Regions from separate parts of the Homo sapiens genome. Here all the other regions are linked to region 1. Evidence: fine-mapped expression QTL. A gene starts in region 1. Each other region holds a variant in brackets. All regions are shown on one strand. Distances are between the middles of the regions.

Region 1 (8,109 bases):
CAGCCTTTACCCAATGACTTTTTACAGAGAACAGTTTGTGAGACCCATCAAGGTACTCTTCATTATGTGTCTGTCATAGCCTGTAATACCCACCTCACTATCCATACCCTATTAATGAGCACGCTTCGCGCTTCCTGGCCCATGACCCTGTCTGCACTCCCTTCCATGATGCTCTCTGGAACTTTTGCTCTATGACCAATACTACCTTGCATTCTCCAATTCTTTGGAATGGTCTTTCTGCTTCCTCTTCTCAACGGAAACCCATACCTCCCCTGAGTGTTCTGCTTCTCTTGACTTACTCTCACATGGACTTTTTTTTTTTAAAGCAATTTTCATACATTTTCTTCATGCTCGCTTCTGATAGTTTTTTTTTCTCTCTTGCATTACTAACCTTTCCCTCCCAGTAGATTCATTGCATCAGCTTCAAAATATGCTCAAGTCACTTCTGTGAAAAATAATGACATGATAGCAATAAAACACCAATGTCCCTCTGTTCAATATTCCCCCATACCACCACTCTTTTTTTCTCCCCTTTCATAACTTTTTAAGATTGTGTGATACTCACTTCCCACTGACTTTTTACTCACTGGAATTTGGCTTTCACATTCATTGTGCCACTGAAACAGTGCTTATTGATCTGCAGGAGTATTTTATAGAGGAAATTAGCTCTTTGTCTATGATTTGAGTTTTAAAAATGTTTTCTCGGTCTCATTTACTTTTGACTTTGCTTATGATGATACTTGATTTGTGGATTTGAAAAAATTTATATCTATCCATTTGTGGTTCATAAGCGTGATGATTGAGCTTTCACACACATGTGAGACGTGCCTCACCCAATCCTTGTTATGATGTCAGCATATTACCCATCTGACGTCAAAGTAAATAAAAATTAAAAAAACTTACATCTTCAATGTTTCTAGTTTCTTCTGTACAGATGCTGGGTTTATGGCATATTTAAAAAGTCCACTTCTCTGAGACTAGAATAAACTATGGTTTGGTGATCTCTCTGGTTTATAGCACTTTATATATACATTTTATAGTATTTTATATTTGAGGACATTTTATATGTTGCACTTGTAATTTTGTCTGTTTCGATGAGAAGAAGGAAGTTGGGAAAACGGTGAATGGGTATGTTCTGCCCATTCGGTTCTACAGAATTCCTATAAGTTAATTTAGGTATCTACTGTTTTCATAATTTTTACTGTGACTCTTTGTAAAATCTTTGAATACCTTTGTGCAATGCTTAAATAAATAAAAATAATTGAAATAGGTGCCAAAAGAAGTCCAAAAAGTAACGTGGACTCATGGAGTTCTATAATAGTATTATGCTGTGTACTGAATAAATTGATTGACAATATCCAGATTAGTAATCTAGAGGGAGAAAGAGACCCAGGACATACTACTTAGGATAAATGAGAAAAGCCTTATCAAATAAGGCCCCCATGTGGCAGTGTAATGACACTCCATACATGCAAAACAAAACAAAACAAAAAAGAAAAACACAGCTTGTTTATGGCAAAGTCTTGGTAAGCAAGTACTAACATGTCAACTAAATCCTTCTAAGAGTAACATTTGAAAAATAACGTTATGGCTGGGCGCGGCGGCTCACGCCTGTAATCCCAGCACTCTGGGAGGCCGAGAAGGGCGGATCACGAGGTCAGGAGATCGAGACCATCCTGGCTAACACGGTGAAACCCCGTCTCTACTAAAAATACAAAAAAATTAGCCGGGCGTGGTGGCAGGCGCCTGTAGTCCCAGCGACTCGGGAGGCTGAGGCAGGAGAACGGCATGAACCCGGGTGGCGGAACTTGCAGTAAGCGGAGATCCTGCCACTGCACTCCAGCCTGTGCGACTGAGCGAGACTGCGTCTCAAAAAAAAAAAAGAAAAAAGAAAAATAACACGATTACCTCATCATTTAAGATGGAGTTTTACTAAGTTTTCAGTCATAGTTCACAGTGAAAATAACATGAACATGTACTGGAGGCTAGGAAGCCAATTTTGAGGATATTAACATCTCACTTTTCTCGTTCTGTCATGACCACTCACTTTTATCTTCTTGATAAATGCTTCAGAGGCATGTGTGTTCTCTCCCTCACTCACGACACACCCAAGCATCGGTTTTTAGAAATTTTATTGATAACTGATGGTTTTCCACTCTTTTCTTTCTGCAGTTTTATCTGTGGTTAAATAATAACAACATCAATTTGAGTAGTATTTGTCATTGCCAGCGCAAATATTTTGCTGAGACTGCCTGCATAACCAGTGCATCTGTTTCCTGATGGCTACTTCTGAATCCAAACTGTTGAACTAGCAAGAAGAGACAAGTTAAGTTGTAGCTCCTAGGAAAAGAAGACTCTTTATAAGCCTCCGTGTCACAGGAGAGCAGACACGTAATGTTCTGGAAGAAGTGCACTGACTAGTCACAAACATCCATATATAGAAATTTCGCCTGCTTTTATTAACTTGAAAGATAAAGTGTAAAGTCTGACTAAATTGTTTTCTTAAAATTTTAATGTATGAATGAATATTTATCATAGCACATTAGTTAAGACTGACACTATATACGTATGGCTAGAGAGAGAGGAATATATATATATATATGTACATATATATGTATATGTACATATATATATATATAGAGAGAGAGAGAGAGAGAGAGATGGAGTCTCATTCTGTCGCCCAGGCTGAGACATATATATATATATATATATATTGTCATATATATGTGTCATATATATTGTCATATATATGTGTCATATATATTGTCATATATATGTGTCATATATATTGTCATATATATGTGTCATATATATGTCATATATATGTGTCATATATATGTCATATATATGTGTCATATATATGTCATATATATGTGTCATATATGTGTCATATATATGTGTCATATATGTGTCATATATATGTGTCGTATATGTGTCATATATATGTGTCGTATATGTGTCATATATATGTGTCATATATATGTGTCATATGTATGTGTCATATATATGTGTCATATGTATGTGTCATATATATGTGTCATATGTATGTGTCATATATGTGTCATATATATGTGTCATATATGTGTCATATATATGTGTCATATATATGTGTCATATATGTGTCATATATATGTGTCATATATATGTGTCATATATGTGTCATATATATGTGTCATATATATGTGTCATATATATGTGTCATATATATGTGTCATATATATGTGTCATATATATGTGTCATATATATGTGTCATATATATGTGTCATATATATGTGTCATATATATGTGTCATATATATGTGTCATATATATGTGTCATATATATGTGTCATATATATGTGTCATATATATGTGTCATATATATGTCATATATATGTCATATATATGTCAGAGAGAGAGAGAGAGAGAGAGATGGAGTCTCACTCTGTCGCCCAGGCTGGAGTGCACTGGCGCAGTCTCCGCTCACTGCAACCTCCGCCTCCCGGGTTCAAACGATTCTCCTGCCTCAGCCTACCGAGTAGCTGCCACTACAGGCGCGTGCCACCACACCCGGCTAATTTTTGTATTTTTAGTAGAGATGGGGTTTCACTATGTTGGTCAGGCTGGTCTCGAACTCCTGACCTCGTGATCCGCCCGCCTCAGCCTCCCAAAGTGCTGGGATTACAGGCGTCAGCCACCGCGCCCAGCCCATATATTTTTATTCTACTAAACAGAATAGTAGAATAAAATTAGACATGGTAGCTGAAAAGGATGATTTTTTGACTATTTTAAATAGAGATTTTTAAACTTTAAAAACCTCAGAAATTAGGAATTTACAACTTTATTACACAAACGTGCGTTGTTAAAACATTCAAGAGTAACAGTATGCCCTGCATTAACAGGGATAATATATAAGAAAAATAGAGATAGCCACACAAAACTATATATTCTCTGACATTCTTTGACAGAAACTTCAAAAGTAGAGGTGAAAGATACATGGATTTTGGAGCCACTGAAGCCGTGAAATTTCAGTAAAAATTATGTCAAATGTGACTTCAAATTAAATTCGAGAAACATTTATTGAGAACCTGTTCTATGTACAGCACTGTGCTAGGTCCCATAGGGAGAGTAAGTCATTTAGGATTGCACTCTAAAATCTGGGCATATTGGTGCAAAGGGAGGTGAACAGCAGGCGTAGGTGAGTGTCAGAGGACCTGACCCAAGCTGGGACCCTCCTGCAGGTAAAACGGTGGGTAGTGAGAAGCTCTAGGAAGGGGGCGCTTCCGAACACGCGCGTCGAGGAGGGCGTTCCAGGACTCTGAGGGAGCAGCCCAGCTGGACCGAGGCCGCGTCGTTCCTGGGCTTACTATTCCCAGACCCGGACTCCCGATTCCGGAGTCACGGCCCAGGACGCGAAAAGACTCTACACTGGCACCACGCTCCTCCTTAGGCGGGCCGTCAGTCCCGGGTGCGGGCTGCGCTGGAGGCTGAGGTGGGAGCGACATGGTGTGGAGGGGCAAGAAATGTCGGCACTAGACGCGCCAAGAAGGAGATTCTACGAGCAATTCCCCCCTCGGGCCATTGTGTTGCTGTTTATTAGCCCCTGGGAGGGCGTCAGGACAAAAGGAACCCTCCTCCCTTCTTAGTACTTAGGCCCAAGGTCGGGTGTGGGAGCCGGCGCGCTGCTTTCTAGGCAGGCACTGAAGCTACGGCAGCCACGCAAATAGGTATCAGCCGTTAAAGCTTGGCTACAGGCAAGGGGGGGGCAATAGGCCCCTGGCGCTGTGGGGCCCCGCATCCCACAATCCCCGCGGCTAGCCTGTGTGGCTACTGGCGGCAGCTAGCGGGCTGCGAAAGCGAGCCCAGCGTCCTTGACAGCAGCCCACGCGTCGGGGCGGGGCTTGAGCCCGCTGCTTTAAAAGGTCCGCGCGGCCGGCCCCGCCCCTCTGGTGCCGCGATTGGATCCGGCGGGGGTAGCGTTGATTTGATAGGCGCAGAGAGGGTGGGGCTGCGCACGCGAGGCCGGGGGCCTTGCCGCTGCCTCCCGGGCTGGGGCACGAGTGGCTGCGGAGTGTGGGTGGTTGGGCGTGAGGGGCCGACGGGCTCGCGCGCGCGCCGTCTGCTGAGGTCCCTCGGGAAGGAGGAGAGCGCCTGACGCCGACCCGCAGGCGCAGCCCGGCAGTCGGCGGCGCGCCGAGGGCGGAGGTGGTGCGTGCGTGCGTGTGTGTGTGTGTGTGTGTGTGTGTGTGTGTGTGTGTGTGGAGCTCGGGTGCCAAGGGCGAGCCGTCAGTCCCCGGGTGCGAGTCCCTGCTGTCTTCCACACCCTTCCTCCCTCCAGGCTCCTTTCCTACATCCTTCCCGCGCCCCCACGGTTGCGGACCGAGCGAGAACCCCCTTAAGCAGGTGTGGGGGGCGTGCGGGGTGGCACGAGACAAAAGGGGCACGGGGGTAAGCCCGCCATGGCCTCCCGGAGCCTGGGGGGCCTGAGCGGGATCCGCGGCGGTGGCGGCGGAGGCGGCAAGAAAAGCCTGAGCGCCCGCAATGCTGCGGTGGAGAGGAGGAACCTGATCACCGTGTGCAGGTACGGCAGCGCAGGGCGAGGGGAACCAGCCTCCCGCCGGGGCTGAGAGCTCTGGGCTTCCGCGCGGGTCCTTGGGGGTCCCGGGCATGATGGGCTGCCGCCCAGTGCCCCCGCCTATGTTGCGCCAGCCAAATCTGTGAGCGCGCAGCTCCTTGGACAGGGGCCCGGGTCTGGACACCGTCGCAGCCCTGGACTTTGTGTCAGTTCCAGTGCTGAAGGTACTGGAGGGTAGAGCTTGGGGCGGGGCTGGAGGAGGATTTGTTTTGAATGTGCAATCTAGCGTCAGAGTGAAAGAGGAGGGCAAGGAAGAAGAGCTCTTTCATTTAATGCCCATTCAGCTGTCAGCGAGCTTTGGATAAAGTGGTAGTTACTGTGATTGTTTACTGTGTTGCCCCCAAATCAGAGTGCATTTCGTTGTTTTGGCTTGTTTACATTATCTTCAGCCATTTCATTTCACACGTTAGTTGAGTGCCTACTACATGCCAGCCATTGTGTATGTGAGCGTGTGTGTACTATCCACTTTTCAGCTACAGTGCTAGTGCTGGTTCTGCAGTTGTTATTAAGAGTGGGACTGTGGAGGATACCTAGTCTTTATGTCAATGATTTATTTTAAGGCCTGCCTTTCCTTAATGCTTTATAACTGTAAATGTAGTATTTCCTTCAGAAAAATATAGAAACAATAAAAGAATAATTACTATTGGGCCGGGCGCGGTGGCTTACACCTGTAATCCTAGCACTTTGGGAGGCTGAGGCGGGCGGATCACGAGGTCGGAGTTCGAGACCAGCCTGGCCAACATAGTGAAACCTCGTCTCTACTAAAAATACAAAAAATTAGCCGGGCGTGGTGGCGGGCTCCTGTAATCCCAGCTACTCGGGAGGGTGAGGCAGGAGAATCGATTGAACCTGGGAGGCGGTTGCAATGAGCTGAGATAACGTCATTGCACTCCAGCCGGGACCACAGGGGGAGACTTCGTCAAAAAAAAAAAAAAAGAACTATTTATAGTAAGCCTAGTATTCAGAGATAACTGGTTTTTAACATGCTGATATATTTTCTTTAAGTCTTATATCTGAGTATTAAGAAAAATTGAAACCCTAAGCATCAATTTCTTAGGAACTTCTCTGAGCCATTAAGTTGTTTTAAAATTACTTTCCTCCATCAGACTCCTAATCATCACCTAGTGATATTCCTCTTAAGAATCAGATGATGATGAAACTTTTTCTTCCTTTGCAATTTCTCTGTATTTTTCCGTTATTTTTCTTGTGTAAAAATGTGTCTAGCATCTTAAGTGGAATACAGATAATTATTCCAGGACTTAAATGCAATAACTCACAGTGACTTTTTAAAAAATACTTGAATTATTACAAATGTTTATCTAGCAAGAAGACCTTCTTCATTGACTGTATTTGTATAATGTAATTATTACAGCACTTTGAGTTGTAAATGGTAAAGTAATATGGTATCCGTTTAATTTGCCGTTTGTGCTGTCTAGGATGTAACTTTTTGAGACAAATAGGCTGTTAGGTGTTTTAAAATATAGGTAAATATCTTTAAAGTAGGTAAATGGAACCATAAGCAAGGCTGATTTTCTTAACCATAATATACAGACATCAAAAATTGCTTTAAAAATAAGGGTAGTTTCAACATATACAGTGCTTCTTGGGGGGTAACATATTTAATAAAAGCTCTATCAGCTTTTGTTAAACTTCACAAGGGCAGTGATTCTATCTGCTTTTTGCTTAGTCTTTTTTTTTTTTTCTTTCAAATTCTCAGTATAGCATCTAACACTCAAAAAATATTTATTGAATGAATAATTTCAGTGATGGGTACTGTTCCTTTTGCTTCTCCATTTTTGTCTTGGCTGGCTTTAGGTCATGTAATGATCATGTGTGCCCTTATCAGAGACAGTTGAAAAGAAAAGGATTTGTATTTCAACCTTATTTAAACTAAATTTTAAATTATCTTTAAGAAATTTTAGGAACGTCACACTGATTTCTGGGGACAGCTCTCTGTATTAGTTGTATTTTCATGATTGTAATTTACATAATTATTATTTTCTACTGTGAAATGAATATGTGCTAACTTTAGTTACAGTTTACACATAGATTTAGTGTAATAGCTAAAATAAGTTGTGGTTTCTGCTCTGGATTTCATTTGTATTGTTATTTATATGGATAATATTAAGGCTGTTTTTCAGATCCAAATAGTTGATGGTGCATGTAAATTATCCATGTGTAGTAATGGGGTCTATATGATAGGCTTTGTCTGAATGACTTTTACTTTTTGGAAGAAAGTCACTATAGGCCATTTGTACATTTTAAGTATCCCCATGACAAATTAAGAAAAATGAATAAAGCAGTATTTATGCATTTATTGCTAGTTTACTTTCCAGAGTCACCAAACCCTGGGTATTTCACTCATGTCTCTTATGAATTCTTTTTTTAATTTTTTATTTATTTATTTTTGAGACGGAGTCTCGCTCTGTCTCCCAGGCTGGAGAGCAGTGGCGCGATCTCGGCTCACTGCAAGCTCCGCCTCCCGGGTTCACGCC
Region 2 (8,109 bases), 520 kb after region 1:
CCTAGGGCAGCCAGAGGCAGGACAGTGAATGGAGGAGGGAGAATAGAAGAAAAAGATAAGAAACTGTGTGTATCTCTATTTTTTTCTACCTGTATTTATAATAGTGTATCTATAAGCCAGCATTGGCATGCTTTTTCTATAAAGAGCCAGATAGTAAATAGTTTAGGCTTTGTGATCATAAAGTTTCTGTTGCAGCTCAGCTCTGCCTTTGAAAGCAGCCTTTGAAAATACAGAAACAAATGGGCATAGCTGTGTTCCAATAAAACTTTATTTATAAAGATAGGCAATCAGTGAAGTTTGACCCATGGGCCACAGTTTGCAGACCACTGCTGTTAAAGAGTGCTTGTTTACTTGTTTATTACTTTTCTTCTCCCATTATAATACAAGGGTATTTATTGGCAAGGATTTTGGTTGATTTATATACTGCTGTATCCTAGCACTTAGTGCAAATCCTCCCTCCCTATTCTTTCTTTTAGAAGTTTCCTGGAACTTCTTGAACATTATGCACTCCTCTAAACTACCCCAAATTTGCTCATATTTCTACCCTAGATATTCTAAAATGTTGGCTTGTCTTAGTCCCAAGGAAGAAGAGAAACGTGAAATTAAATTTTCTTATTTCCTTATTTTTAACCCACATTAAGATGCAAGTTCCTGATGAGCAGGGTTCTTGTGTTTTGTTCTCCATTGAGTTCCCAGTAGTTAGAACAGTGCTTGGCACGTTATTAAATATTTGATGAATGGATGAATGAATACATATTTTGTTTGGGTCTTCTAAAAAAAAATACTTGTTGAAATCCAGATTGGAGTTTATAGTGGGCAGTGCATGTTCTAGGAACAGCAGGAGACTCAAATGCCTGTAGAGTTCTGAGCAGCTAGAGAAGATAAAGCTTATCTAGAAAGTGAGGGAAGCAGAATAACATGTGCCTTTGTGTGAGCAGACACAAAGCATGTAAGGATACAGCCCTGAATGCTAACATTTTGGATAGAGAAAAAGAGAAGGATTGAGAAGGGAAGGGGAAGTACTTTAACTATATATCTCAGGTCTGTTTCATTTTAATGAGTACTCCTGCAATTCACATTTTTAACCTAATGAAGTTAAACATTTATTTGTATAACTCTCACACTTGCAAGAAGTATTTGAGATGATGGAAAACAGAAAAACAAAAATGCCTATATGAAGACTTAAATAATAGAAACACTAGAAAATAATAAAAGACCAAGATCTAAATCCATGTAAAAATGAGGCAGGGGAGAAGAAGGGTAGAAGAAACATGGGAGGAAATAGCTTTGTCAGAAAATCTAATTTTTGTGGTTCAACCCAAAATGTAATTTTTTGATTCTTGGTAGATAAGGCAGAAAAGGATAATGTGATAAAAGTGTCGGTGAGAATGAAGAGTAAAGGGTAAATTCAAAAGCTATTAGTACAGAAAAATTACTAGAACCTGGACTAACTGGCCTGTCTTGTGGAATTTAGCAGTATAATATAAGGCTTATGTGTAATGACTATGGAAATTACATCATACACAAGAAACTGTTTCTTAAAACTATTAAAATAAAATTTTTTTCAGTAACTGTGGTTTTGACAGATTACCATCTTACAGTAGTTTAAGGTATTTCTAGCCAAACAATTTTCATTTTGTTTTTTTTAGATGATATTGTAAGATTTTTTTTTCTCCCTACAGTTTCACACGTTGATTTTTGTTCATTTTAGTTTCAGCCTATGGGCACTGTGTGCCGAGAAGCAGTAAATGATTGTGATATTCGTGAAACGTGCTCAGGAAATTCAAGCCAGGTAATTTACAAAATAACTGCTCTAAAACTTATGGGAAAAAGTGGGGGTATCTTTAGTGCACTGACCCTCAAAGAGAAATGTAAATGAACAAGATGCTCGTGTCTCTTTCACATCATTTCTCCATTTTTTTTAGGAATTTAAGTTTCAGTGATTGAAGCTTGAGCAGATTTTGAACATAATTTTGTCTTAACGTTGAACTAACCTCAGACTGCGTGCATGCCTTAACTATTTTGTTTTTGTATTAAGTAGGTAGTACAAGGCATTTTCTTTTCATCTACTTAGTAAAGGAAGAAACAAATAAACTCTCTTCAGCTGATTGAACAAGAAGTCAGTGGAGGCAGGGACTCACAAACACACTGGATTCTTAGAGAGGACCCTTTTCTTTCTCTTGACTCTTATCTATGATAGCTTGCATCGCCTCAGCCATCAATAGCTGCTCTTGAATTTTATAGCACTTAGTTATAGATAGACAAGCTAGAGAAATTGAATAAACTTTGGTGGGAGTTCACAGATTTCAAAATGGTCACTGTACATACAGACGGTCCTCACTTTGAAGGGTAGTGCCAAACCATAAAAATGACCATGCAAGCTGAGACTATGCAAAGTCATTTTAATAATCAAAGGAAAATACTGCACTTGTTTTGCAGTCCTCAAAAAATGCTGTCAGATTATTAAAAACTCTCTTACTGTTGGTTTTAAATGGATAGGAAGGTGAAAGAATAGTATTTATTTAGCATACTGTACATTAAAAGAGAAACATTGAGAATTAAAGGATTTTATTTCTTTGTAAAAACCTTAGGAGTAGTTTGAATAGAGCTTGCCTTCTTATAAGCTTTATGATATAGAGTGAGCATATTTTCTATGCCTTGTTGAACTGTCACACCCTTTTCTAAGTTTGGATCAGCTTTCAACATTTTACAACATTTTATTCTTTGTGCTTTCAATGTCATGAGATATCCCTGAGAGATGTGAAGATGTGAATGTGAAGTTTCTTGCTGGCGTTACCCCCTCTGGGACATCGTCACCTATATGTCACAATCACCTTATTCACCGATGTCATTAAGTCCTCCTTCAGCAAGTTCCTCTGGTTGCATGTCTAGAGGCTCTTGAACAGCAATATTGACATTCCCACAGTCAGCAATTTTTTTCTGTAACTCCATTTACAAGTTCAATTTGCATTTCACTTCTGGTGTCATCACTTTTCTTTGCTGCACTTTCATCTCTGTTGGCCAGTTTCCTCTCTTGGTATTCCGTTTTTGCAAAATGGCACATGATATCATCAGAAGACAAAGAGGCAACATAATTGCATGCTTTGCTGTCTGTTTATACTCATTCAATATTGCCTTATAATTTTTCATAATTGCTGCAAGGAAAAAAGGATTATAAAGTGTGCCCTTTTCTGACATTCTTAAAGTGGACTTTGGCTTGAAAGTCATTATTTTTAGTATAAGGGCTATGTTTCTTCTCATGGCAAAAGAAAGGAAACTAGTTATTGCTCCATTTATGCAGACTTACTCTTTGTTTATTGTCCCCTTCTCTTTCTTGCTCTGAAAAATAGTATATCTGTATGAATCAAGATACTTTTAAATGTATCATTAATTGAGTCTATGGTAGTCAGTTCTTTTTATTTGCTGCTATGTAATCAACTGTTTTTGCCTCTGGTAGATTCATATTTTCAGGGGCAAGTGTACCCATTGTTTTTCCTCTTGCTTTCTCTTTTATTTTTTTAATTTATTTTTTACCAAATACCCAGACTTCAAGGACATCCACTTGCTCTTGACCTCCTTTGCATTTTGTTTTATAGATGGTATAAGGGACTAGCCATATTAACAAATATGTTTTTAAAAGTGAAAACATTAAAGGGTTTAGCTCAGCCTTATATTTTGCACTGCATTTCATTCATAGTTGTTCTCTTTTTCCTAGTGTGCCCCTAATATTCATAAAATGGATGGATATTCATGTGATGGTGTTCAGGTAGGTCACTTCATTTTTACCTATGTTTTTCACATGTACCAGCATGAAAGGAATACTGAAATCTTATCAAAATAGGAAGATCAATTTAAATGTTTGTAATCAATTCTGAAGATAAAAGGCCTCTCTACTATTCATCTATTATTTTTCCCAATCATAGTTTCTTTTTCAGTTATCTGACATAAGCAGATATTGCATCGCTAATGGGTATTTGCTTTTCCGTTTTAGGGAATTTGCTTTGGAGGAAGATGCAAAACCAGAGATAGACAATGCAAATACATTTGGGGGCAAAGTAAGTAAATAGTGTGGCTTGATCATTGTTAAAGCATGATGTCAGGCGGACTTCTCAAGGACGTGTGTGCTGGAAGTAAATTTTTGACTACTTTATGACTGGGGGATTCTCAAAGCTACCACAGGTCTTAGCAGGGGCATGTTTCTGGAAATTAGAGTAAGGCACCCCTTTGAGAAGCAGCCCCACACATCTTGGCTAGTTGGCAGTGCCTGTGGACGAGACAGAAAGTGCCTTTGCTGCCAGGCAGATGGAGCCCATGCCAGGGTGCACAGCTTGGAGAATAGAGCAAACCTGGATTTCAGCTCCATGTATACTCTTCTCAGCTGAGTGCCCTGAAGCTAAAGCTTCACAACCATATGGGATGGACGTGGACCCTGGACAGGACGTCCTTAACTTAGAACAGCAGCATTTTATCTAGAGTCATTTTTTTCCTCCTTGGATATTTTTCTTAAACTCTAGTTGGCTTTCCTAGTTACGCACTTCTGCTAAAGTGGCTTTGCTGTATCAGAAAGAAATGTTAATGTTTAGCCTTTAAAGTCTGTCAGATTTTCAAAGGAAAATATATGATATTTAGATTTAAATTATACTCTATTTAAATGTTTATTTAAATGTTGAGTAATGTATTGTTTCCTAGAAGTACTACTAGCCCAAACTTTTGGAAGCAGTTTTTGTTTTAAACTGTTTCAGGAGACAATTTGTAGTAGGAAAAAGGCTATAAAAATAATGATAATTCTTAATAGTTATAAGTAGGTGCCACAATCCTTTTAGGAGGGGAAGTGTATGCTCTCTTTAAGCAATTGGAAACATTGGGATGGGAAAACATTTAGTCAGGCAGGTTTGTACTCCGAAAAAAGATATCA[T/A]TTTTGTTTTATCCACTTGAGCAAAAATAGTAGCTGACAACAAGAAGTAGGAAACATAACTACCGACATAACTATTGTTTTTTTTAAAAATATACCAACAATTATCCTTTGATTAGTTTGCATTTTGTCCTAATTCTTAGATAACTCTATCAACTGTCCCTGGTTTTAGAAAAGATAAAAGCCTGAAAAAGATACTGATATACCTTAAAATGTTATTTGACTTCCAGAGATTTAGCATGAATTCAAGCTTGTCTTAAAGCAAAGTAAAATTGCTTTTGATAGCTGCTAAGAAGTGGGGAGCAAGGTAGAAATTGTACCACTGTTTCTTGAATCTAATTACAGGATATAACTATTATAATAAACTTGTCTTTATGATTAACAAAATATGCTGAATGAGAAATTCATGTATTATATTTAGCACTGAGATTAAAGAATAGAGTATATATTCAAGGAAATATTTGTTATTGCCTTCCCTAATTATTGGCCAAATTCTTTTGTTGTTGTTGTTGTTGTTGTTGAGATGGAGTCTTGCTTTGTTGCCAGGCTGGAGTGCAGTGATGTGATCTCAGCTCACTGCACCCTCTGCCTCCCGGGTTCAAGCGATTTCCCTGCCTCAGCCTCCCAAGTAGCTGGGACTACAGGTGCACACCACCACACCCAGCTAATTTTTTTTGTATTTTAGTAGAGACGGGGTTTCACCATGTTGGCCAGGGTGGTCTCGATCTCCTGACTTCATGATCTGCCCGAATTATTGGCCAAATTCTAAGGAGTGTTTGTTTTTGTAGCCTACAGCCTGAGTCCCAACAGAGAACTAAATACATTTGTTTACTAAATTTCAAATGAGCTTTAATGAAAACCTATCTGAGTCATGGATATATATGATCCATGGTAAAACTGTGAACCGTTCGTTGGTAACATTTTTGGAATTGATAACACTGTAGTGATGAAGAGTCCTTATATTACAATTTTTCTTTTCTGCAAAGCTTTTGAGCAGCCAAATCGTACTTCCCTCACTGATAGAAAATTTTTTTCTGCCTTAGAGGTGACAGCATCAGACAAATATTGCTATGAGAAACTGAATATTGAAGGGACGGAGAAGGGTAACTGTGGGAAAGACAAAGACACATGGATACAGTGCAACAAACGGTGAGGTGGAGACGTCAGCCCAGAATTCATCCCTTGGTCAATTACAAGTGTACTTTTTTGAGTGACTAGGAAGTTTCTGCTTTCTGCATCACACAAAGTGTGCTCTTGCCTCCTTAACCTCATCTCTTCCCAGTGTTCCAGCATCACCTGTGCAGAGGGCTTCCAAATCTTGAACATGTGTGCTCACCTCTCTCCTAAGGCCCAGGTCATACTTGCCCCCACCTCAGGATTTTCTTACCTAGAAGACACCTTTTAGCATCTCAAAGGCAAAAGAACTTAAAGCCACCAGAATATGCACTGAGTGCTGTTGAATTGAATTAACTGGCTCTAACTTTCCCAAACCACCCCCTTTTTGCCAAAGGTCTCAATATTTCACTGTCCTTCTGTCTAGAAGCCTTAAAGTGATCCTTCCCTCTACACATTGTCCAAATGCTAAATTACATCCATTCTTCCCTTTGCTTTGCCACCATTTGTCTTTAATTCATGTATTCACTTACGTTCCTATTACCATTACCTGAACTAAGACCTATATTAATCCTTCAACTATTACAAAATTCTTTTAACAGTTTTCTGTGCCAGCATTCCCTAGTGTACTACTATCAGAATAATCTTTTGGGTCTTTTTTACTGTCAATTCTTTGTTGAAAGTTCACTGGTTCCACATGACTAATTAATAGTGAGAACAGTACCCAGCACTGATTGAGTGAACACTGTGTGCTAAGCACTGTATCACACTTTACATAAGCTATGCCATTTAATCTTCATGGCAGTCCTCCCATTTTATGGAGGAGGAAACTGAGACACAGTTAATTTGTCCGAAGTCATGTATATGGGATGTAATAATAAGCAGAATTAGAATTTGGAGAGTATGATTTCAGAACTCTCTCTTCACCATTTTGCTGAATGTCATAGTCTTGTTAACAAATTAAATGGAACCTTAGCTTGGCACTGCACCTATTCAACAATTGTCCCCAACCTACACTTTTTGTCATTTCATTTATATTCTTCCAAATCTAGCAAACCTTACCATTCCGAATATGTCCCTACCTCCATGCCTACATTTATGCTCTATAATCCTCCAGAAGCACCCTTTAACTCATACCATCATCAGCCAAAAATATACCTATTCTTCAAAGCCCAGCTTGGGAAACACTTTCTATATATAAATTTCTTTATGATTTACTCTAGAAATAAATTATCTCTCTCTTCTTTGAACTTCCACAGCCCTTTGTACTTATTTGTCCGTAATTTTGTTTTATAAGTTGTTTATGTGTGTGATTTATCTTCTTATTTAGAGTATAATTTTCTTGTGAATAAAGATCATATCTAATTGTCTTTATATATCCTGATTACATAGGTTCATATACATAAATGACATTCAAAAAAGTTTTGAATGAATATCTCTTCTCTGTTGAGAAAGCATTTTTGTTTATGATAGATACAGTAAAATGATAACATAATTTTAAAAAGCATTTTTAAAGAATAAAGTAATACATTCTTTTCTATGTTGGTGAAAAATACAGGTTCTAATTTTTCTTTTTTCTCCATGTGGTAAAGTCTGATACTTTTGTATATAATCTTGCTGACTTACTAATTACTCTTCACAAGATATTTTAAAAATATGTTTATTGTTATCTCTACTAATAATTAAAATGTGTTGGATATAAATAATATGTAAGATAGTATTAACAACAGTAAAGATATTTTATAAGTTAAGTTAGAATCATATGTAATAGTTGGGGAAGTACTGAAATATATTGAAGAAAGGATAATGAGCCTTTGTAGTTGGCAGTCTGTAAAATAAATGCAGCCTATAATTTCTTCTTTAATTCTAGGGCAACAGGTTGAAAAAAACATCTGTATTCCAAAAGAATGCTCATCCAAATATCATTCAATTACCAATTAAAAAAAAAATTGTCTGGGCACAGCATCTCATGCTTATAATCCCAGTGCTTTGGGAGGGTGAGGAGGGAGGTTGCTTGGGGTCAGGAATTCAAGGCCAGCCTGGGCAACATAGTGAGACCCTGTCTCTGTGAAAAATTTAAAAGT
Region 3 (8,109 bases), 200 kb after region 1:
ACCACACCTATTCCAAAATTGACCACATAGTTGGAAGTAAAGCACTCCTCAGCAAATGTAAAAGAACAGAAACTACAACAAACTGTCTCTCAGACCACAGTGCAATCAAACTAGAACTCAGGACTAAGAAACTCACTCAAAACCGCTCAACTACATGGAAACTGAACAACCTGCTCCTGAGTGACTACTGGGTACATAACGAAATGAAGGCAGAAATAAAGATGTTCTTTGAAACCAACGAGAACAAAGACCCAACATACCAGAATCTCTGGGACACATTCAAAGCAGTGTGTAGAGGGAAATTTATAGCACTAAATGCCCACAAGAGAAAGCAGGAAAGATCCAAAATTGACACCCTAACATCACAATTAAAAGAACTAGAAAAGCAAGAGCAAACACATTCAAAAGCTAGCAGAAGGTAAGAAATAACTAAAATCAGAGCGGAACTGAAGGAAATAGAGACACAAAAAACCCTTCAAAAAATTAATGAATCCAGGAACTGGTTTTTTGAAAACATCAACAAAATCGTTAGACCGCTAGCAAGAATAATAAAGAAGAAAAGAGAGAAGAATCAAATAGATGCAATAAAAAATGATAAAGGGGATATCACCACCGATCTCACAGAAATACAAACTACCATCAGAGAATACTACAAACACCTCTACACAAATAAACTAGAAAATCTAGAAGAAATGGATAAATTCCTCGACACATACACCATCCCATGACTAAACCAGGAAGAAGTTTAATCTCTGAATAGACCAATAACAGGATCTGAAATTGTGACAATAATCAATAGCTTACCAACCAAAAAGAGTCCAGGACCAGATGGATTCACAGCTGAATTCTACCAGAGGTACAAGGAGGAACTGGTACCATTCCTTCTGAAACTATTCCAATCAATAGAAAAAGAGAGAATCCTCCCTAACTCATTTTATGAGGCCAGCATCATCCTGATACCAAAGCCGGGCAGAGACACAACCAAAAAAGAGAATTCTAGACCAATATCCTTGATGAACATTGATGCAAAAATCCTCAATAAAATACTAGCAAACCGAATCCAGCAGCACATCAAAAAGCTTATCCACCATGATCAAGTGGGCTTCATCCCTGGGATGCAAGGCTGGTTCAACATACGCAAATCAATAAATGTAATCCAGCATATAAACAGAACCAAAGACAAAAACCACATGATTATCTCAATAGATGCAGAAAAGGCCTTTGACAAAATTCAACAGCCCTTCATGCTAAAAACTCTCAATAAATTAGGTATTGATGGGACATATCTCAAAATAATAAAGAGCTATCTATGACAAACCCACAGCCAATATCATACTGAATGGGCAAAAACTGGAAGCATTCCCTTTGAAAACTGGCACAAGACAGGGATGCCCTCTCTCACCACTCCTATTCAACATAGTGTTGGAAGTTCTGGCCAGGGCAATTAGGCAGGAGAAGGAAATAAAGGGTATTCAATTAGGAAAAGAGGAAGTCAAATTGTCCCTGTTTGCAGATGACATGATTGTATATCTAGAAAACCCCATTGTCTCAGCCCAAAATCTCCTTAAGCTGATAAGCAACTTCAGCAAAGTCTCAGGATACAAAATCAATGTACAAAACTCACAAGCATTCTTATACACCAATAACAGACAAACAGAGAGCGAAATCATGAGTGAACTCCCATTCACAATTGCTTCAAAGAGAATAAAATACTTAGGAATCCAACTTACAAGGGATGTGAAGGACCTTTTCAAGCAGAACTACAAACCACTGCTCAATGAAATAAAAGAGGATACAAACAAATGGAAGAACACTCCATGCTCATGGGTAGGAAGAGTCAATATTGTGAAAATGGCCATACTGCCCAAGGTAATTTACAGATTCAATGCCACCCCCATCAAGCTACCAATGACTTTCTTCACAGAATTGGAAAAAACTACTTTAAAGTTCATGTGGAATCAAAAAAGAGCCCGCATCGCCAAGTCAATCCTAAGCCAAAAGAACAAAGCCAGAGGCATCACGCTACCTGACTTCAAACTATACTACAATGCTACAGTAACCAAAACAGCATGGTACTGGTACCAAAACAGAGATATAGATCAATGGAACAGAACAGAACCCTCAGAAATAATGCCGCATATCTACAACCATCTGATCTTTGACAAACCTGACAAAAACCAGCAATGGGGAAAGGATTCCCTATTTAATAAATGGTGCTGGGAAAACTGGCTAGCCATATGTAGAAAGCTGAAACTGGATCCCTTCCTTACACCTTATACAAAAATTAATTCAAGATGGATTAAAGACTTACATGTTAGACCTGAAACCATAAAAACCCTAGAAGAAAACCTAGGCAATACCATTCAGGACATAGGCATGGGCAAGGACTTCATGTCTAAAACACCAAAAGCAATGGCAACAAAAGCCAAAATTGACAAATGGGATCTAATTAAACTAAAGAGCTTCTGCACAGCAAAAGAAACTACCATCAGAGTGAACAGGCAACCTACAAAATGGGAGAAAATTTCCGCAACCTACTCATCTGACAAAGGACTAATATCCAGAATCTACAATGAACTCAAACAAATTTACAAGAAAAAAACAACCCCATCAAAAAGTGGGCGAAGGACATGAACAGACACTTCTCAAAAGAAGACATTTATGCAGCCAAAAAACACATGAAAAAATGCTCATCATCACTGGCCATCAGAGAAATGCAAGTCAAAACCACAATGAGATACCGTCTCACACCAGTTAGAATGGCGATCATTAAAAAGTCAGGAAACAACAGGTGCTGGAGAGGATGTGGAAAAATAGGAACACTTTTACACTGTTGGTGGAACTGTAAACTAGTTCAACCATTGTGGAAGTCAGTGTGGCTATTCCTCAGGGATCTAGAACTAGAAATACCATTTGACCCATCCATCCCATTACTGGGTATATACCCAAAGGACTATAAATCATGCTGCTATAAAGACACATGCACACATATGTTTATAGCGGCACTATTCACAATAGCAAAGACTTGGAACCAAGCCAAATGTCCAACAACAATAGACTGGATTAAGAAAATGTGGCACATATACACCATGGAATACTATGCAGCCATAAAAAATTGAGAGTTCATGTCCTTTATAGGGACATGGATGAAACTGGAAACCATCATTCTCAGCAAACTATCGCAAGGACAAAAAACCAAACACTGCATGTTCTCACTCATAGGTGGGAATTGAACAATGAGAACACATGGACACAAGAAGGGGAACATCACACTCCAGGGACTGTTGTGGGGTAGGGGTAGTGGGGAGGGATAGCATTAGGAGATATACCTAATGCTAAATGACGAGTTATTTGGTGCAGCACACCAACATGGCACATGTATACATATGTAACAAACCTGCACATTTTACACATGTACCCTAAAACTTAAAGTATAATAATAATAAAATAAAATTAAAAAAAAAGATCACATGTGTAAACAAGCTAGCTAGCTAAACTACTCTGCCTTTCTTTATTACTATTTTAATTTGTTTAACTAAAGGTAAAGGGATCAGGCCACCTTTAGCCAGATCTATTACCAAAGTTATGCAAACCTCTGGCCTTCCAAGATGATTTATGTCCATTTCTATAACTATCTGTAATATTTTTTCCACAAGCCTGATTGAACCCCAACAGGTACTCTTTTTAAAATTTCATAAACCATCCAAGTCACATAGCCCTTTCCATAGAAATCCTGAGGAGCAAACACACTGTCTATGCAAAACTATTTTTTTTCTTTCTTTAAAATTGAGTATCTTTATTTTTTATTTTTATTTTTTTTAATTTTTTTATTTCCATAAGTTATTGGGAAATAGGGGATGTTTGGTTACATGAGTAAGTTCTTTAGTGGTGATTTATGAGATTTTGGTGCACCCATCACCTGAGCAGTATACACTGCACCCAACTGTAGTCTTTTATCCCACATCCCCTTCCCACCCCTTTCCTCTCAGTCCCCAAACTCCTTTGTCTCTTTCTTATGCTTTTGCATCCTCATAGCTCAGCTGCCACTTATGAGTAAGAAAATACGATGTTTGGTTTTCCATTCCTGAGTTACTTCAGTTAGAATAATAGTCTCTAATCTCATCCAGGTTGCTGTAAATGCCATTAATTCATTCCTTTTTATGAATGAGTAGTATTCCATTTCATATATA[T/C]ACACACACACACACACACACACACACACACACATATATATATACACACTCACCTACATACATACATACATACCAGTTTCTGTATCCACTTGTTGATTGATGGGCATTTGGGTTCGTTATACCTTGCAAAACTAATTTTAAAAAATCACATAAATTGAGAAAAATAATTAAGCCAATGAACTTCACCACCCAGGAAAACAATAGTGAAGCAGGAAAAAAGATGTTATAAAGCCATATAATTTCTGTATCCTATTAAAGTAACTTTTAAAATTGATACATAATGGATATACATATTTTGGGGGTACATGTGATAATTTGATACTTTCATAAAATAAAATCATATAATTTTATTAAATATCCTCCAACAAGCAATTAGTCATAAGACAGAAACATTTCAAATTGGAAATCAAAACCTAAGAACATCAATGTCTAATAAAGAAGAAGAAATGACGTGTCATGTGAGGAACCCAGTGGGAGGTGATTGCATTATTGGGGCAAGTCTTTCCCAGGTTGTTCTCATGATAGTGAATGAGTCTCACAAGATCTGATGGTTTTAAAAAGGGGAGTTTCCCTGCACAAGCTCTCTTGTCTGCCACCATGTGAGATGTGCCTTTCACCTTCCACCATGATTGTGAGGCATCCCCAGTCACATGGAACTGTGAGTCCATTAAACCTCTTTTTTTCACAAATTGCCTAGTCTTGGGTACGTCTTATCAGCAGTGTGAAAGTGGACTAATATAGTAAATTGGTACCAGTAGAGTGGGGCACTGCTGAAAAGATACCCAAACATGTGGAAGGGACTTTGGAACTGGGTTAACAGGCAGAGGTTGGAACAGTTTGGAGAGCTCAGAAGAAGACAGGAAAATGTGGGAAAGTTTGGAACTTCCTAGAGACTTGTTGAATATCTTTGACCAAAATGCTGATAATGATATGGACAATGAAATCCAGGATGAGGTGGTCTCAGATGGAGATGAAGAACTTGTTGGGAACTGGAGCAAAGGTGACTCTTGTTATATTTTAGCAAAGAGACTGGCAGCATTTTGCCCCTGCCATAGAGACTTGTGGAACTTTGAACTTGAAAGAGATGATTTAGGGTATCTGGTGGAAGAAATTTCTAAGCAACAAAGCATTCAAGAGTGATTGGGTGCTGTTAAAGGCATTCAATTTATAAGGGAAGGAGAGCATAAAAGTTCAGAAAATTTGCAGCCTGACAATGTGATAGAAAAGAAAATACCTCCTGCACATGGTGAAACCCTGTCACTACTAAAAATACAAAAAAAAATTAGCTGGGCATGGTGGCGGGTGCCTGTAGTCCCAGCCACTTGGGAGGCTGAGGCAGAAGAAAGGCGTGAACCTGGGAGGTGGAGCTTGCAGTGAGCCGAAATCACACCACACTCCAGCCTGGGTGACAGAGCGAGACTCCATCTCAAAAAAAAAGAAAGAAAAAGAAAATACCATTTTCTGAGGAGAAACTCAAGCCAGCAGAGATTTGCATAAGTAACAAGGAGCCAAATGTTAATCCCCAAGACAATGGGAGAAATGTCTAAGCCCCAAGCCTTGGCAGCTTCCACGTGGTGTTGAGCCTGCAAGTGCACACAAGTCAAGAATTGGGGTTTGGGAACCTCTGCCTAGATTTCAGAAGATGTAGGGAAATACCTGGATGCCCAGGCAGAAGTTTGCTGCAGGGGTGGGGCCCTCATGAAGAACTTCTACCAGGGCAGTGCAGAAGGGAAATGTGGGGTCAGAACCCCCACACAGAGTCCCTACTGGGGCACCACCTAGTGGAGCTGTGAGAAAAGGACCACTGTCCTCCAGATCCCAGAATTGTAGATCCACTGACATCTTGCATCATCCACCCAGAAAAGCCACAGACACTTAGCACCAGCCTGTGAAGGCAGCCGGAAGCGAGGCTGTACTCTGCAAAACCACAGGGGTGGAGCTGCCCAAGACCATGGGAATCCATCCCTTGCATCAGCATGACCTGGATGTGAGACAGGGAGTCAAAGGAGATCATTTTGGAACCTTAAGATTTGTCTGCCCTGCTGGATTCTGGACTTTCTTGGGGTATGTAGCCCCTTTGTTTTGGCCAATTTCTCCAGTTTGGAACAGCTGTATCTACCCAGTTCCTGTACCCTCATTGTATCTAGGAAGTAACTAACTTGCTTTTGATTTATAGGCTCATAGGTAGAAGAAACTTGCCTTGTCTCAGATGACATTGGACTGTGGACTTTTGAATTGATGCTGAAATGAGTTAAGACTTTGAGGGACTGTTGGGAAGGCATGATTAGTTTTGAAATGTTAGGACATGAGACTTGGGAGGGGCCAGGGGAAGAATGATATGGTTTGGCTGTCCCCACCGAAATCTTATCTTGAATTGTAACTCTCACAATTCCCACGTCATGGGAGGAACCTGGTGGGAGGTGATTTAATTACGGGGGCAGATCTTTAGTGTGCTGTTCTCATGATAGTGAATGAGTCTCACGAAATCTGATGGTTTTCAAAAGGGGAGTTTCCCTGCATAAGCTCTCTTCTCTTGTCTGCTGCCATGTGAGATGTGCCTTTCACCTTCCACCATGATCATGAGGCTTCCCCAGTCACGTGAAGTGTGAATCCATTAAACCTCTTTATTTCATACATTTCCAAGTATCAAGTATGCCTTATCAGCAGCGTGAAAATGGACTAATACAAGGTATCTAAAGAAGAATGGATTTGAAAGAAAACTTAATCTAAAACACTGAAGAAAAATGGGAAAACAACCAAGAGAATGAAAATGAGATAAAGAAAGAAGTAAAATGAGTTAGGAAGTGGTTGAATTAGAAAGGCAAGAATATCAAATTTACATGTTTATAGAGTCACTGGAGAAGATAAAATAGTGGAACAGAACTAATACCAAAATCTATCATTCAAGAACAACGTTTGGAAGTAAATGAAGACATAATATACAAATTGAAAGATCTAACCAAGTACTAAAGAAAATTTGCCTGAAGTAATCACCTACAAGACAAATTCTACTAAAATTATTACATAGTAACAATAATGAAAACATACTGGTGACTTCCAGGCAAAAAGATGAAACAAACTAGAAAGGGAGAAAAGAATGAAGTTGGCATTAGATTTGTCTAGTTGTATAAAGGTAACAACTAGAACTAAAATACAAACCTTCCTAAATAATTTTTTTAAAGCAAATATGTCATCTAGAAAGAGAAGCATAGCAAATTTAACAAAGCAAAATAATTTGTCACAGCAGAGAGCCTATCAAAAGAAATTAATGAAATGGCAAACAACATATACCAAGGAGAGAAACAGTAAATATAACTATATACATAAAATTACAACAAAATTATGATTTATTCTGAATGGCTAAATATAAAGGAATAGACAAATATGTAACAGGCAAATAAAAATACAAACAAGGGGCCAGGCATGGTGGCTCATGCCTGTAATCCCAGCACTTTGGGAGGCTGAGGCGGGCAGATCACTTGAGGTCAGGAGTTCGAGACCAGCCTGACCAACATGGTGAAACACTGTCTCTATTAAAAATACAAAATTAGCCAGGTGCGGTGGTGGGCCCCTGTAATCCCAACTACTGGGGAGGCTGAGGCAGGTGAATTGCTTGAACCTGGGAGGCCGAGATTGCAGTGAGCTGAGACTGCGCCACTGCACTCAAGCCTGGGTGCTAGAGTGAGACTCTGTCTCAAAAACAAACAAACAAAACCAAAAAACACAAAGCAGGGTAGCAACCCTTATATCAGATGGGTAGATTTTAAACCAAAATGCATTAAGCATTACAAGGAAAGATATGTTTTAATGCTAAAAAAAATTAAGATATAACAGGATTATACAACAAATAATGATATCCCCCTTTATATAAGGAAACAGAAATCCAGTGACAGTTGAAGACATACTATTCTCAGTATAA
Region 4 (8,109 bases), 93 kb after region 1:
ACTGGTGGCCACTAACTTAGTTTAGTCAGGTCCAACTGTCAGAATGACATGACTCCTGTCACTGTTGCCAGATTTGTGGGATATTGGAGCCAACGTAAAATGGTTTTCAAGCTTATTCTGAGAATATAGAAAGTTACCAAATAAAAAGAGGAGCAAAGTTTGTTTTTCCCTGAAGATTTCCTGAGTGAGCTTTACAAAAACTTTTGAATTCTCTGAAAATATACTGAATCATGTTCTGTTCTGTTTCTGAACTGTTTGAACCTCTTGGGACCTGTAGGAATTGCTAACAAGCTCTTAAATGTCTCCATTGCACCATATCATTTTTAGACCAATTTATCTCATCTTTGGGCAATGTGCTATACACAAAATATTTCTGTTTTATGTTTCTTTTCTAATTTGTCTCTGCGTAGCCTGCAAACTAGTGAAGTTCTTTGCCCTCCATCAGATAGGAATAAGAAAGCCAAGAAACTAAGTTTCTAACACAAAGTGCAAGGTTTTCCCATAAATTTTAAGTTCTTTTTTGATAAGATGTCTAGTGAGAAGTGAAGGCTATATACAGCTGTTTACTGTACAACTGTTACAGCTGTACATGATTAGTGTAGAAATTTAAAACAAGTAAAATTTTTGGTATTTGCAATGTAGTTTAATTGTGTATAATTATGATATTATTACTTCTATGATTTTTTAAGATAGGGTCTCACTCTGTCTTCTAGGCTGCAGTGCAGTGGCACAGTCATGGCTCACTATAGCCTTGACCTCTCAGGCTCAAGCCATCTTTCCAAATTAGTTGGCTAACTTTTAAAACTGGTTTGTGGAAACAGAGTCTCACTATGTTGCCCAGGGCAGTTTGTAACTCCTGTGCTCAAGTATCCTCTTGCCTCAGCTTCCAAAGTGCTGGAATTCCAGGTGTGAGCCACTGTGCCTGGCCTACTTCTATCATTTTTCTTTCCCTTTTTAAATTAAACTCTTGGGTTAAAGGTAAAATACAATCCAAAAGTGTTTTTTAATAAAAATCATGGATAATGGAGGTATTCTATATCAGGACACCTGTAATACATTCAAGAATGTAGCCAGAAAAAGTTTTATAGCCCTAAACCCTTTTATTAATAAAAATACAAATTATAAATGAATGAAATTTTCATGTTAAACAAGATAAGAAAAACAAACAGAAAAAATAAAGGAACAATAAAGCAAAAAATAAACAATATTTGCTTTATCAATTTATCTAAATTGAGAAACACATAATTACTAAATAAAAATAATATTTTTTGGTAAAAAATTTTCAAGAGAGACCAATTACTAGCTACCTTAACTGAGGTATATGTATAATAAAAGGACAAGGAGGAAGTAACCATTGACATGACATATGATGCATTTAAAAAATCCTACAATCTCTCTGTTATATATTTGAAAGATATAATGATAATTTCCTACAGAAATATAATTTGCCCAAATAGGCCCTACTATATGTAAAAAATTTAAATAAGCTAATTTCTCTATCAGGAAAAGAAAAATTTATCAAGACACTTCCTCAAAATCAATCATTAAGCCCAGATGATTTCAAGGAAGACTTGTATCAAAATTTCAAAGCCTGGATAGTCCCAATGATTTTGAAAATTTTTGCACCTTATAAAAAAGAAAATTTCAAAAAATTAAGGAAAATCTAATACTTTTTGTAAAGTAAGTATGACATTTATACCTAAACCTAATACAGTTAGAAAAGAAAATTATAGACAAATATCAGTTATTAATATTGATTGAAATGTAAAAATATTAGTAACAATATAACACATCATTAAGAAACTGATACATTTTGATCAAGTGTGATTTATTCTGGGAATATGATATTGATACAATATTAGGAAATTCATTGATATAAAAACCATATGAATCTTCTGGTTTGATGATTTGCTAGGAGGACTCATAGTCTTATTCATGGCTATCATATATTACAGTAAAAGGATGCAAAGCATATAAGTAAAGGGAAAAGGCATATGCGGCAATGTCCAGTGAAAAACAAGTATGAAAGTTTCTAGGAGTCCTTTCCCTGTGGAATCATATGGGCTGTGCTTAATTCCCTCAGCAACAACTTTGGACAACATACATGAAATGCTGTCCACCAGGGAAGCTCATTAGGGATTTAGTGCCTAGGGTTTCTATTAGGGGATAGTCAGGAGGCACCTTCTGCCTAGCACCTATCAAAATTCCAGACTCCTAGAAGGAAAGAAAAAGGTTAGCATAAACTACATTTTTTGTACAAGCAGTTTAGGCACAGTGAGCCATTCTTACCCATCAGAGTGATGGTAATCCTTCCAAAATCTAAGTTCTCAGCATCAGCCAAGCCTAATCTTTTAATCAGGCCTTTCGAAGGATAGAAATCAGGTCTGCTATATGTTAACTCTTTCTGCACACCATATTCATACATCTAAAAGTAAAAACCAGCTATTTTTCCTCTACAGAAGATGGAAAGTCCTTTACAAAATGTATGATTTATTCCTGAGAGATGAAAAAAAGTACAAAATTGTTAATTGATGTTTACTTTCTTAACATGATATGGGAATTTTATATAATCTTAGTCCTAGAATCAGTATTTTACTTAATTCAGAAACACTACTTGTATTTCCAATAAGATTTTAAAGAATGTATTGCACTCTTCTTACTAATGTTCAACTTAATAGTAGAGGTTAGCCAATTCAGTTAGACAAAATGAATCATTTAGAGACATAAGAATCAGAAACAAAAAGGAAAGCTATTTATATTTGTAGATGATAAGGTTTTGTAACTAGAAAACCGTAGAGATTCAGTAATAAAACTAAATTAAAATAAAACAATTCAACAGTACAGTAAACATTAAAATAGCATATCTAATACATATACACAAGTAACACATGTAACATAGTTACACAGGTAACATAACACAGGTAACACAGGTAACATAGTTACACAGGTAACATAATAACACATAAAATCAATATTCAACAATAACTATAAAATACTAAGAGATAAGTGTAAGAAGAAATGTGTAAAATCTACATGAAAAAAATTTAAAAGGCCTGAAAAATATAAAATTAAAATTATTAAAATGGGAAGAAGTCTTTTACTTTTGTGTGAGGTGCTTAAACTTTATAGAATACAGCTTAGCTCCCTATAAGTTAATTTATAATTTGGCTGCAATCTCTATGTTAATAAGTTTCTTTACATAATTAGACAAGTTGATACTGAAATTACATGTAAAAATAAACATACAAAATAAATATAAAAAATATACAAAAGAAATATAAACATATAAAAGTATACAAAATGTACAAAAATACACAAGTAAATATACAAAATTAACTTGGAAATACTAAAAAGAAAGCTGTAGTATAGGGGAAGAAATTAGCTTTACCCGATACTAAACATACTATATAAAAACCTTACAATTAAAACTGTGCATTGGTGCATGCAGACATACAGTGAAATAGGATAAAGAAGTAGTTATATAATAGAAATAAATGCAAGTAAAAAATAAACTTTAGTTTATGATAAAGGTAGAATCTTAAAACACTGAGGTGATGAGGAGATTTGTAATGCATAGCTCTGGGATCAATCAATCAATCAGTTTGCCATTTTGAAAAAGACATAATTAAATCCCTTCTCACATTATATAAAATAATAATTAAAATAAATGTAGTATTTACTTTTTTAAAGAAATCAAAACATTTCAGGATGAGATAAAACAGAGATGAATTTCTATATAACCCTATGTAGGTAAAATTCTTCTAAGTCTGAATAAAATTTCAGAGGTAATGAAAAAAATTAGTGGAACATTTGACTACATCCAAAAAAAAAAAAAAAAGAGAAAGAAAAACTTTGCAAAGCAAAAACACCATATAGAAACATCAAAATACAATTGAAAAACTGGGAGAAAATATTTGCAACATTATTTTAACAATAAAAGACTTTTTTAATTAATACAAATTGGGAGGAAAAGACTAAAAATTTGATAGAAACATAAGGGCAGAGATGTAAACTGACAACTCACAAGAATATGTCAAAAGCTCTTAGACATATGAACATTTATTTAACTTTTCTTATTATAAGGGAATTATCAATATAAACTGAGATATTATTTCTTTTATGTCATTTTAGCCAAGTTTAGATAGAAAGATGAGAGAGAGAGACAGACAGGCTGATGGAGGAGTTACAGCACTCTTTGGTGAGGATATGTGGAAAATGCACTCCCATGAACTTCTGAGGAAATGCACATTCCTAAAGAAGGATTTTTGGTTTTATCCAAAAAATCTACATAGTAACTTACGGCTAAGCAATTTCACTTCCACAAATCTAAGCAAAAGATAGGATATCACAAATTTAAGCAGAAGATAGGATATATGTGTGTGTGTGTGTGTGTGTGTGTGTGTGTGTATGCAATAATTATAATTTTCTTTTTTTTTTTCTTTTCTTTTTTTTAGACAGAGTCTCACTCTGTCACCCAGGCCAGAGTGCAGTGGTGAGCTCTGGCTCACTGCAGCCTCCACCTCCTGGGTTCAAATGATTCTCCTGACTCAGCCTCCTGAGTAGCTGGGACTACAGACGCGTGCCACCACGCCCTGCTAATTTTTTGT[A/G]TTTTTAGTAGAGACAGGGTTTCACCATGTCAGTCAGGATGGTCTCGATCTCCTAACCTCATGATCCACCTGCCTTGGCCTCCCAAAGTGCTGGGATTACAGGCGTGAGCCCTCGTGTTTGGACATTTAGCTAATTTTTAACTATAATATTTTAAATAGTTAAAATTAGCTATTTTAACTATTTAAAATATTATAGTTTAAAATTAGCTAAATGTCCAATTAAATGTATAATTTAAAATATTATAGTTAAAATTAGCTAAATGTCAAAACAAAGGAGATTGACTAAATCAGAAATGTATGCAGACACAGAGTACTATGTAACTGTAAAAAAAGAAAATTTTAAGTTAATAGAGTATGATTATATTATAATTGTATATATAATTATAATATGTAGCAGGCTATTTTTAGGTAAAATAAAAGTATAAAAAAACTATACTCTATGTTGTGTTTAAAAATGGGAGGAGATAATAAAACATTCTGGTGGCTCCTCTAAAATCAAAAGTGGGAATACTAAGCCAGAAAGCAGAGGTGGATGGGAACATAGTGAAAATAATAGAATGAAGGGGGTAACATGTCAGTTCTCTGAATATACATTATGGTATGCTTCTGATAATTGGAACCATGTAAATATTTCACGTATGAGAGAGTGTGAGAGAACAAAAATAATCAATAATTATGGCAAAGGTACCATAAATAAAATTCAAACAGAAATAGATGAACCAAACTAAATTCAAATAAATAATATGATCACCCTGAAATGGCTAATGAACTAACCCAGCTAAAGCATGAGGACTACATTTGGACTATATACCTTCAAGCTCAAAACAAACACACTTTTAAACAAATATTAAAGTCTAGTTAGGAAGATTTTTGCAGAATTTAGGTTAGCATTTCTGAAATTTTTTATTGCACTTTCTAAGATTGAGCAAGCAGTTAAATATAACATGAATAATTAGATCTTATTTCTCACTGTTATGCTCCTATTCTAACATTCTCTTTCTCTCTCTCTCTCTCTCTGTCTCTGTCTCTCTCTCTCTCTGATCTCATCTGTTTCTTTGAGTTCTGCTTGAACTTTTGGAATATTTTCTGTGTATTTCATGGGATATTATTAGTTATTTTATAGCGTTGCATTTTTTATTATTTCTGTAAAATGTTACCTTTATTTGCCTTTCCAAGTCTTGTCTTACATTATCACATTTTTTAAATTAAGAAACTCTCATTTTTAAATTCCGGAAACAAAATTTATCTTTTGTTCATTCTGTTTCATCAACACAGCAATAATAATTCCTTCTGCCTGTCTTTCCTTTAATTTTTTTTTTAAATTACTTGATTAGTAATTGTACTTGATGTTTTGATATATATTCATCATTTAATGATTATATCAAGCTAAGTAACATATCTATCACCTCTTATACTTATCATTTTTTGTAGTGAGGACATTTAAAATCTACTTTTTCAGTAATTTTGAAATATACAATATATTATTATTAACTATTGTCACCATTCTGTACAGTAGATCTCAAAATCTTATTCCTCTTCCCTAACTGAAATTTTGTACCTTTGATCAACACCTCCCATGCCCCTACCCCCCAGCCTCTGGTAACCACTATTCTGGTCTCTACTTTTATAAGGTCAACATTTTAAAGTTCACATGTAAGTGAGATAATGAAGTAATTGTATTTCTTTTAAACTATTCTGGCCCCTTAACCCACTTGTGAGTTTATCTGAACTTGGTTTCAAAACATGTGAGATCACTTAACAGACAAGAAAGTTAGTATGAGTGTACTGAGATTAGCAGAGGGAAGAATGTGCAACAGAAAGTAAGGAGATTACCATAATTCCTTTGACGAGTTGGGGCATCTCTTATGAAGAGTACCAAGTGGGGCCTCCATTCTCAAGGCTAAGCAGTAATGAACCTTCAGCAGCTCAGCACTACCAACTCTCTTTTTCTGCTGCTGGAATCAGTGAAATTATTTGATTCTTTCATTGGGCAACAAGTAGGCACAAGCATACTCTCTTTGCTTATTGAACTAGTTGGTATCGTTGAGAAATCAAGGGACTTGACAACTTCACAGTGTGTTCCACTGGAGAGTTAAAACTATTTCCGATTCACTGAGTCCAAGTGCAATTTCACCAACCTCTCTTCCTCAGGCACCACAAACAAACGCATCTTACACTGCAAGCTTTTCTCAAGAACGTGAAGTTGTAGTTCCATATTGTTTTTTTCTGCAGATTCTCACAGTTGTCAATGATAATGTGAATAATAATGGATTCCTTTTAACAAGAAAAATAAAAGATTGAAACAAATGAAGCACAAAAATATGAAACATAAAAGTAGGAGAATGCAATTAATTCAGCTAAACAGTAAAATTAATGGATTTTTAACTATTGAAATTAAAAGTGACCTGAATAGATAAATAAAATAGACAAATACCTAATAAGTACAGAATAATTCAACCAAAATAAAGAAATGTCTGTCAGAAGAAGGGATATATAATCACAATAGAATAAAGACTAAAATATTTGGAAATTTAGAGAAAATGGGTAATATTCAAAAAATAGTTAATTTTTAAAAATGTAGAATACTGAGACATACAGTAATAACAATATCCTCCATCAGGAAGTTGTTTAGAAATGCCCATTAGTAAATAAGTTATAACTACCTTATGATTCTTTTGAGAATTTTAGTTAAGTTTCAAAGAACAGAAATGTCCAATGCAATGCAAATGTTCACAGCCTACAGAAAAATACCAATCCATCATTAGGCTAATGTCACAGGTTGACAAAGATAATACATATGCTGTATAAATACATTTTAGTTATTAGTTTAATTATTAAAAATGAGTAAAATTACACTGAATTGAAGGTAAAAGAGTTTAAATAATGTAATTCACCATATTCAACTAAGGTTTAGCTGATATAAATACAAGACTAGGATTGTGCATTTCATATAAAAATATTTCCTGTTTCAGGTGCCTTGTTAACCCAAATTAATCAGTTATGTTATAAACACATAGTTAAGAGCTGAAAATATTTGACAAAAATCAGCCAATATTTAAAAAAAAAGTGAAATTGGAATATAGGAAAAATGTCCAAATATGATAAAGCGTCTTTGCCAACATTTAATCGTACACATCATAATAAAAGTAAAACATTAAATTCAAGGCCAGGCATGGTGGCTCACGCCTGTAATTCCAGCACTTTGGGAGGCTGAAGCAGGAGAACCATTTGAGCCCAGGAGTTGGAGACCAGCCTGGGCAACATAGTGGGATCCCATCTGTAAAAAAAAATTTAAAAACCACGTGGGTGTGGTAGTGCCTGCCTCTACTCTCAGCTACTCAAGAGGCTGAAGTGGGAGGATTGCTTGAGATTGGAAGGTCAAGGCTACAGTGAGCCTTGATCACACCATTTTACTCCAGCCTAGGTGACTGAGTGAGACCCTGTCTCTCTGAGTCCCCTGAAACCATGTCACCTGCCGTGGGGATACCAAGAACTCTTTGCT

Direction of the effects. Positions count from the first base shown, and alleles are read on the strand shown. Sizes are in standard deviations (SD) of each study's normalised expression. Not every link is listed here.
In carriers of allele C in region 3, the expression in CD4 T cells of the gene that starts at base 5,013 in region 1 tends to be higher than with T alone (large effect, 1.0 SD a copy in BLUEPRINT).

What was found. PIP is the estimated chance that this variant, and not a neighbour inherited with it, causes the effect.
Region 2: its variant is fine-mapped to the expression of RUNDC3B in sun-exposed skin (GTEx, PIP 0.97).
Region 3: its variant is fine-mapped to the expression of RUNDC3B in CD4 T cells (BLUEPRINT, PIP 0.91).
Region 4: its variant is fine-mapped to the expression of RUNDC3B in blood mononuclear cells (TOPMed, PIP 0.98).

Annotation. Positions count from the first base shown.
Region 1 is chr7:87,623,386-87,631,494 of GRCh38, forward strand. RUNDC3B (RUN domain containing 3B) reads left to right here and starts at 5,013. Exons shown (of 11, transcript NM_001134405.2): 1 at 5,013-5,560. The coding sequence starts at 5,439. It overlaps LOC124901834 (small nucleolar RNA U13), which reads left to right and starts at 772; the gene lies at 772-873. It also overlaps a transcript of ABCB1 not described here. RefSeq lists an enhancer at 4,768-5,062 and silencers at 4,928-5,157, 5,208-5,257.
Region 2 is chr7:88,147,266-88,155,374 of GRCh38, forward strand. It overlaps ADAM22 (ADAM metallopeptidase domain 22), which reads left to right. Exons shown (of 32, transcript NM_001324418.2): 18 at 1,712-1,792; 19 at 3,716-3,766; 20 at 3,992-4,055; 21 at 5,956-6,061. The region is part of intron 2 of LOC105375386 (a long non-coding RNA gene); the gene reads right to left. Among named protein-coding and RNA genes, the nearest start is that of SRI-AS1, 65 kb to the right of the region's middle. The variant T/A (reference allele first, on the strand shown) is at 4,916.
Region 3 is chr7:87,819,601-87,827,709 of GRCh38, forward strand. The region is part of intron 10 of RUNDC3B (RUN domain containing 3B); the gene reads left to right. Among named protein-coding and RNA genes, the nearest start is that of SLC25A40, 53 kb to the right of the region's middle. The variant T/C (reference allele first, on the strand shown) is at 4,191.
Region 4 is chr7:87,716,169-87,724,277 of GRCh38, forward strand. All of the region lies in intron 4 of RUNDC3B (RUN domain containing 3B), which reads left to right. Among named protein-coding and RNA genes, the nearest start is that of RUNDC3B, 92 kb to the left of the region's middle. The variant A/G (reference allele first, on the strand shown) is at 4,608.